Linked DNA regions of Homo sapiens. The protein of the gene in region 1 interacts with the protein of each later gene in a pairwise test. Each region holds a gene or a part of one and is shown on either strand. Other genes may lie near its edges.

Evidence for each region. The genes of interacting proteins can lie anywhere in the genome.
Region 2: the proteins of RBL1 (region 1) and DYRK1A interact in binary tests that used the Homo sapiens proteins (3 or more experiments, as listed by UniProt).

Annotation. Positions count from the first base shown.
Region 1 is NC_000020.11:37,085,887-37,089,539, reverse strand, and holds part of RBL1 (retinoblastoma-like protein 1), read left to right. Parts: intron 1-417; coding exon 418-551; intron 552-3,653. UniProt on the Homo sapiens protein: Key regulator of entry into cell division. Directly involved in heterochromatin formation by maintaining overall chromatin structure and, in particular, that of constitutive heterochromatin by stabilizing histone methylation.
Region 2 is NC_000021.9:37,513,174-37,516,826, reverse strand, and holds part of DYRK1A (dual specificity tyrosine-phosphorylation-regulated kinase 1A), read right to left. Parts: 3' UTR 1-3,653. UniProt on the Homo sapiens protein: Dual-specificity kinase which possesses both serine/threonine and tyrosine kinase activities. Exhibits a substrate preference for proline at position P+1 and arginine at position P-3.

The DNA.
Region 1 (3,653 bases):
CCCAAGTAGCTGGGACTGCAGGCAAGCACCACCATGCCTGGCTAATTTTTTTATTTTCATTTTTAGAGTCTACGTTGCCCTGGCTAGTCTTAAACTCCTGGCATCAAGTGATACTCGCACCTCAGCCTCCCGAGTTACTGGGATTACAAACATGAGCCACCAAGCCAGGCTTTTATCTTTAGATTAATATTAATTTAGCATGTTATAGTTGTAAAAACACAGAACTAAGAGTAAGGAGTTTTATACCCATTACTGCAACTAACAGCTTTGTGACCTTGGGCAAATATCTTCACTTCTCTGGCCCTTTATCTACATAAGGAAAATTGAGACCAGATAATTCTACATCTCTTGTTTCTAGAATTAAAGCATTTTAACATAATATTATACCTGTTTTGCTGTTTGTCTTTTGCTTGCCAGGGAGAAGTTACACACTGGTTGGCATGTTCATTATATGTTGCATGCCGCAAAAGCATTATTCCCACGGTTGGAAAGGGTATCATGGAAGGCAACTGTGTTTCACTTACCAGAATACTACGTTCAGCTAAATTAAGGTAAACCTCTTTGATGTTTTTAAATGTTATATAAGCTCTAAATTTTGGAATCAGTTTTCTCTTGTTTTGAGATCATTTGACTTCATTTAATTTTTATTTTATTTATTTATTTATTTATTTATTTTTGAGACGCAGTCTCACTGTGCCAGCCAGGCTGGAGTGCAGTGGCACAGTCTTGGCTTACTGCAATCTCTGCCTCCTGGGTTCAAGTGATTCTCATGCCTCAGCCTCCTGAGTATCTGGGATTACAGACACACACCACCAAGCCCGGCTAATTTTTTGTATTTTTTTTTTTTAGTAGAGATGGGGTTTCATCATGTTGGTCAGGCTGTTCTCGAACTCCTGACCTCAAATGATCTACCCACCTCAACCTCCCAAAGTGCTATGGGATTATAGACGTGAGCCACTGTGTGACTTCATTTAATTCTAAGTTATAACATAGATAATCCTTTCCCAATTTTCATATTCTTTCTCTGCCTTTCTCAAATTCTGCTAGAAACCTCTGTGTTGAATCTTTAGCTATACTTTTTAAAATTAATTTTTTAAAATTTGGAAATAATTTTAGGCTTACAGAGAAGTTACAAAAATAAGAAAAGGACAATACCCATATACCCTTGACTCAGAGTCACCTGTTATTGACATTTTATCCCATTTGCTTTCTCATTTGATTTTTCTTTCTTCAATATATAGATCTTTCTCTCTCTCTCTTTTTTTTTTTTTTTTGAGATGGAGTTTTGCTCTTGTTGCCCAGGCTAGAGTGCAGTGGTGCAATCTCAGCTCACCACAACCTCTGCCTCCTGGGTTCAAGCGATTCTCCTGCCTCAGCCTCCCGAGTAGCTGGGATTACAGGCATGTGCCACCACGCCTGGCTAATTTTGTATTTTTAGTAGAGACGGAGTTACTCCATGTTTGGTCAGGCTGGTCTCGAACTCCCGACCTCAGGTGATCCACCCGCCTCAGCCTCCCTAAATGCTGGGATTACAGGCGTGAGCCAGCACTCCCAGCCAGATCTTTCTCTTTTTATCCTCAACCATTTCAGTCTAAGTAGCATACATTTGTAGCCTTTTACCCCAAAATACTTCACTGTGTATTTCTTTAAATAACTACAGTACAGCTACCAACTTCAGCAAAATTAACACTGATAAAATAATTTTATTTAACCTGCTAACTCTGTTCTAGTTTTGTTAGTTGATTCAATAATGTTCTTTATGGCATTTTTTTTCCTGGAAGTACAATTTCTAATTAAGGATCAGGTATTGCATTTGCTTATCATGTCTATTTATTCTTCTGTAATTAGGAACATTTCCACAGCCTTTCTTTTTCTTTTATGACATTACCATTTTTGAAGAATATAATCCACAATCACTTTGTCCCTTTCTTTAATTAAAAAAAATTTTTTTAGAGGCCGAGTCTTGCTGTATTGCCCAGGCCTCGAGTGCAGTGGCACCTTTTTAGCTCACTGCAGCCTCAAACTCCTCAGCTCAAATGATCCTCCTGCTTCAGCCTCCCAAGTAGCTGAGACTACAATCATGTGCCACCATGCCTGACTGATATTTTTAAATCTTTTTATAGAGACAGGGTCTTACTATGTTGCTCAAGCTTGTCTCAAAGTCCTGACCTTAAGTGGTCCTCTTGCCTCAGCCTTTTTTTTTTTTGGGACAGAGTCTCACTCTGTTGCCCAGGTGGAGTGCAGTGGTGCAATCTGGACTCGTTGCAACCTCCGCCTCCCGGGTTCAAGCGATTCTCCTGCCTCAGCCTCCTGAGTAGCTGGGACTACAGGCATGTGCCACCACGCCCAGCTAATTTTTGTATTTTTCGTAGAGATGTGGATTCACCATATTAGCCAGGCTGGTCTCAAACTCCTGACCTTGTGATCCGCCTGCCTCAGCCTCCCAAAGTGCTGGGATTACAGGCGTGAGCCACTGTGCCCACCCTCATCCCCTCTTTTAATAGATGGTTCCCAATTTTGGATTTGTCTCCTATTAACTTTTGATTAGATGCAGGTTAGTCATTCCCTGATGGAAAACTGTATAAGTGATTTTGTCTCCTGAGGATATCACATCTGATGATGGCATGTGTTATCCATCTGCATCTCATTGGTGATGTTAATTTTTGTCATCTGGTCAAGATGTTGTCCTATTTCTCTACTGTATATTAATTTTTTTCACCTTGCAGCTACTCTATGGGTCTCAGATACATCTTTTACTTACTCTAGTATCAAGCATATAGAATTATTTGGCTGGATAGGAAACAAAACAAATTTAGCTATCCAGTTTGGATTCATGCTAATATTCTTTGTTTCTGGGACAAAACTATTTGTGGTCATTGTCTATTTGCTATTCCTGTGTTTCCAGAATAGAAGAGGAGCAAAGTTTAAAGCCCTATTCAGAAATGGCAAATAGGTTTTAGTTGATGCTAAATTTAAATTTTTTTTTATTTTTATTTTTTGAGACGGAGTTTTGCTCTTGTTGCCCCGGCTGGAGTGCAATGGCCTGATCTCAGCCTCCCCAGTAGCTGGGATTACAGGCGCCCGCCACCACGCCTGGCTAATTTTTTATATTTTTAATAGGGAGAGGGTTTCACCATGTTGGCCAGGATGGTTTCAAACTCCTGACCTCAGGTGATCCACCCGCCTCGGCCTCCCTAAGTGCTGGGACTATAGACGTAAGCCACCGTGTCCAGCCTAAAAAAAATGTTTTTAAACAACTTTGGTTCTAAAAATAAAATAAGATGATAAAAATTAAATGAAGATCAATGGGGTTAATTTTTTAATTGAGCAAGACATTATCATTGTTAGTATAAAACAATCTGATCTTTTTCTGTCAATGTTTGTCATTGTTCATATAATTTCAAAAATCTTTGTAATGACAGATTCTGGGGGAACTAAACAAAAAAGAATTATAACAAAACAAATGTAGAGCAGTACATGGCAGGAGAATCACTTGAACCTTGGAGGTGGAGGTTGCAGTGAGCTGAGATAGCGCCACTGCACTCCAGCCTGGGCGACAGAGCAAGACTCCATTTCAAATTAAAAAAACAAGGCTGGGCGCGGTGGCTCACGCCTGTAGTCCCAGCACTTTGGGAGACCAAGCCGGGTGGATC
Region 2 (3,653 bases), on another chromosome or scaffold:
ATACTGACAAATACCTGACAGTCTCAGTGTTAAGGTAGTGTTATTTTTTTTAAAGTTCTGATGCAAGAACACCCACTGAGAGCAGCCAAAATCTGGGACCTTGGCTATGCATAATGCCAAAGAGAGCCAAACACACCAAGCGATGAGCCACTTACCTCAATGAACATGTCTTCCACAAAACAAGCATCCAGTGCCTTCAACACAGGCATACGTCAAAAATTCCTGGTCCAGGGTGAAAGCCCAGTAGGCATCCACAGGCTGGTTCTCAGTGGATTCATTTGGATTAAGGTTAGTCATTAAAAGGGAGGATAACAAATAAGCTATCTTCTTAGGGTTTCTTCTCTTGTTCTTTGTACTACAAATTACTTGGTGATGTATGTTTTCACGCAAGGAAACAGGCCTAGATAAGAAACCAGGGTTATGAAAATCAGAACTTCTCCTCTACTCTCCCTGACACCAAAGGTTTTCCAACGTCTGGTCAACAGACATCCCTAGCAGATTTTTAAGAAATCTGAATGAAGTCTGGGTATACCGAAGTCACGCACGGCTTTTGTCCCCATTACATTTTCAAACTTCCTTCATATATAGCAGTAAGACCAAGTCATGTATTTGGAATGAACCATCTGGTCTATTACATACAGTCTACCACTATAAAAATGGACATAAAAATGAGTCTTGAACTTGTATTCTGTCTATGGGGATACCACCCAGAATGCACCGGATCGCATCTGAACCTGCATTCTGCGACTATCAAAATAAAGGCAGGCCCAAAGGAAACTGAGAAACTGGCCTAGAACTGAGTGCCTGCTATCTCGTCTTCGTGTGTATTTTGATTATGTATCTCCCTATTGGAAGAACAGAAAAGTTCAACACCACAAAAGCTGGGAAGCAGTACAGGGGCAAACTCAATGGTCACTTGTGAGCCTAACATAATTACTGAATCTTTCATGATTTTTTACATGTAGTTTTAAATAAAAATGTCGGTTTTTTTTTTTCAGCCCAATATCCATGTGCCTAGGTAAAATTCTCACACCCTAAGAAGAAAACTAATGGAAGTTTTCCTTTCTTACATGTGGTTAACTTCAACTTTACGCAACCAACCTTAATTTTACAGATTCACGCTTAACTTTTAAATAAGCATCTTGCCTCTCGAAAGCCACCTTAATATATACTGAAGCAGGTGAATTTGTAAAAAGAGAAGACTTTAGGTTAGCAATTGAATCACAGTGGCAAGAATTCTAGAATTCTGATATGGCCCCGTACGAGGAGTTAGGGAAGGAAGAATGAGTATTCGTATTCCTTCCTTCATCCAAGCACGTCAAAGCATATCAGAGAAAACCATCAGACCCTCACATCCAGTCGAAATGCTACCAACTAAAATATGAGCATTTTGAATCACAAAATTATGTAAACATTCAAATAAAAAAATCAATGTGAAAAATCAAAATGATCTGTTAAACCTCCAATTTTTACTTTCAGAGATTGCTGATGCCTATGTCAATGTATCTCAAATAGTTTCCTTTTTACACATTTAACTCAACTTTGATACTATACCTACCAGACCTGGACCAGTTTAATTGCATAGGAAGATTTTTACTATGTTTACATTTTTCTTAAATTAATTTTTAAAAAAGCATAGTAAAGAGTCTGAGGACAAATTATTCAACTGTTTATCATACATAAGACCGCATGACTATAATACAAAGGGGGGTTCTTTTTTCATTTAACGTTACAATATACACAGCAAGTCCGGACTAGATCTTACAATCTGAACACAGGTATTTAACCTTTTCCATGCTGTTTATGTTTACAATGCACAGAAGTCCTGTAACCAAACTGTGTAGTAAAGCACACAAAACTGGACTGTAACATAACACAGTATGCAGAAGCATTGGATTTTATGATTTTCTTTACGTAAATATCGGTTTAAAAACTGCTTTAGTTTTTTGGTGCTTGCTAAGATGTGGCAACCAGCACAGAAAAAAAAAATGACCTGACCCATATGATATCTTAACCTTATATTCCTAAACAGCAGTAACTACTGAATTCCTTTTGATATTGCTATACTCAAGATGATATCCTTTTATTCACTGTAAACCTTTATGAACTACCAAGTTCAAAAAAATCATCCACAGGCTTGACAGTTAATTACAAAATAAATATGGATTTCCTGATAAACAACAAAAAGTTTTTGTAGTTTATAAAAACGAGTATTTCCAAGTTTCCATTCACATTTACATAGTGTTTAGCCTTTCTTTTCTCACTGTTTACATATAAAAACCTGCTTTTGTTCAGAAAAAAAATTGACCTAGTCAGCCACATGGAATTGACCAATAGAATGAAACGCGGTGTTCTGCTGAGTCATCTTAAACAGGTTATCGGCAGAGGTAGATTACTGCTTCTTTTCTAGGCTTCTTTTGATCCTGGACAGGTAAATTACTTATCTTCATTCTCCCAATTCAACCGCTCAAAAGTGTCACACCCCAAAATTGGTCAATTTAAAATGGGAACACAAATTTAGCAACTGCCAGACTGTGTTACATTAAGGCAGCGTAATCTCAACACGAGGCACCTGTTAAATACCAGCCTGTCTGCTCAGGTCACGCATGAGAGTTCTGCTTTGCTTGCACTCATACTCTGGACCTGTTGGTGCAATCAAGGTCTTGCTTTCAAGTTTACAAGTAGGTTAATCAGGAATACAAGAATCAACTGCTGGTTCCATAGCTTCTGGATCCAGTGTCCCTTTACCTTCAGAAGCCTGAACACACTTAGAATGTAACAGATGTTGTAATCTTGAATTAGATGTCAATCTACTATGTTCAGTACACAGATTGCTGTAAATGTATTGGCTATGGATTCAACAACAGTTCCAGTTTTGTTTAAGCAATAGTACAGCCATAATTTTCAACTGACATTTAAAAATGGTCTAGTTACACCTTGTGTCAAAGTGCAGAACTGCTACATTATTGGTTACAGACATCTATGTGCTATAAAAACAGCTTTGGTACAATAAATTATCAAAAAAGAAAATAAATTTTTGTAAAATTCACAGCATAATTGTGAGGCAAAAAAGCAGTCACATAAAATTCTGCATTTTTTAAAAATGTTCAGGATGAACAGAAGACATCTTTGTGCAGAAGAAATGGTGGAGATACCACGTGCCGAGAAAAAGCAAAAGAAAAAGTAAAAAGCAGGAAGGGACACAGCTGTAGCTATTTCCATCAAAGCAAACCACTACTTCTGTGACCTTCAACCAATAAGGAAGTCAACTTTATGACACACGCAAAGTGACCTTGCAATACCTTACAATTAGTGGGTCACAAAAGTCTATTTTAAAAGAAAGGCCTCTTGAATTACCCATTCTCTGTGTTTTCAGCATTAAGGACTGTCTGCAAAAGCATGTCCAAAAGTGATTGCATCTGAAATGGTAGGCTCTTCTAATTTCGAGTCCAAATCCATAAGGCCAAAGGTTATCCCAAAGACCACCACTCAGACCTCCCCAGGACTGGCCACGACCGACCCGTTGATTGCTTCTCAGTGCACCTTGGTTAGGAGACCAGTCACGTTCCATCCTATCTTCCTGTGGCCTCTGCAACGGGAGAGCCACAGGATCCCATGTAATTGCTGCTTTGCTCCTCAGTAGGTTCAGATAG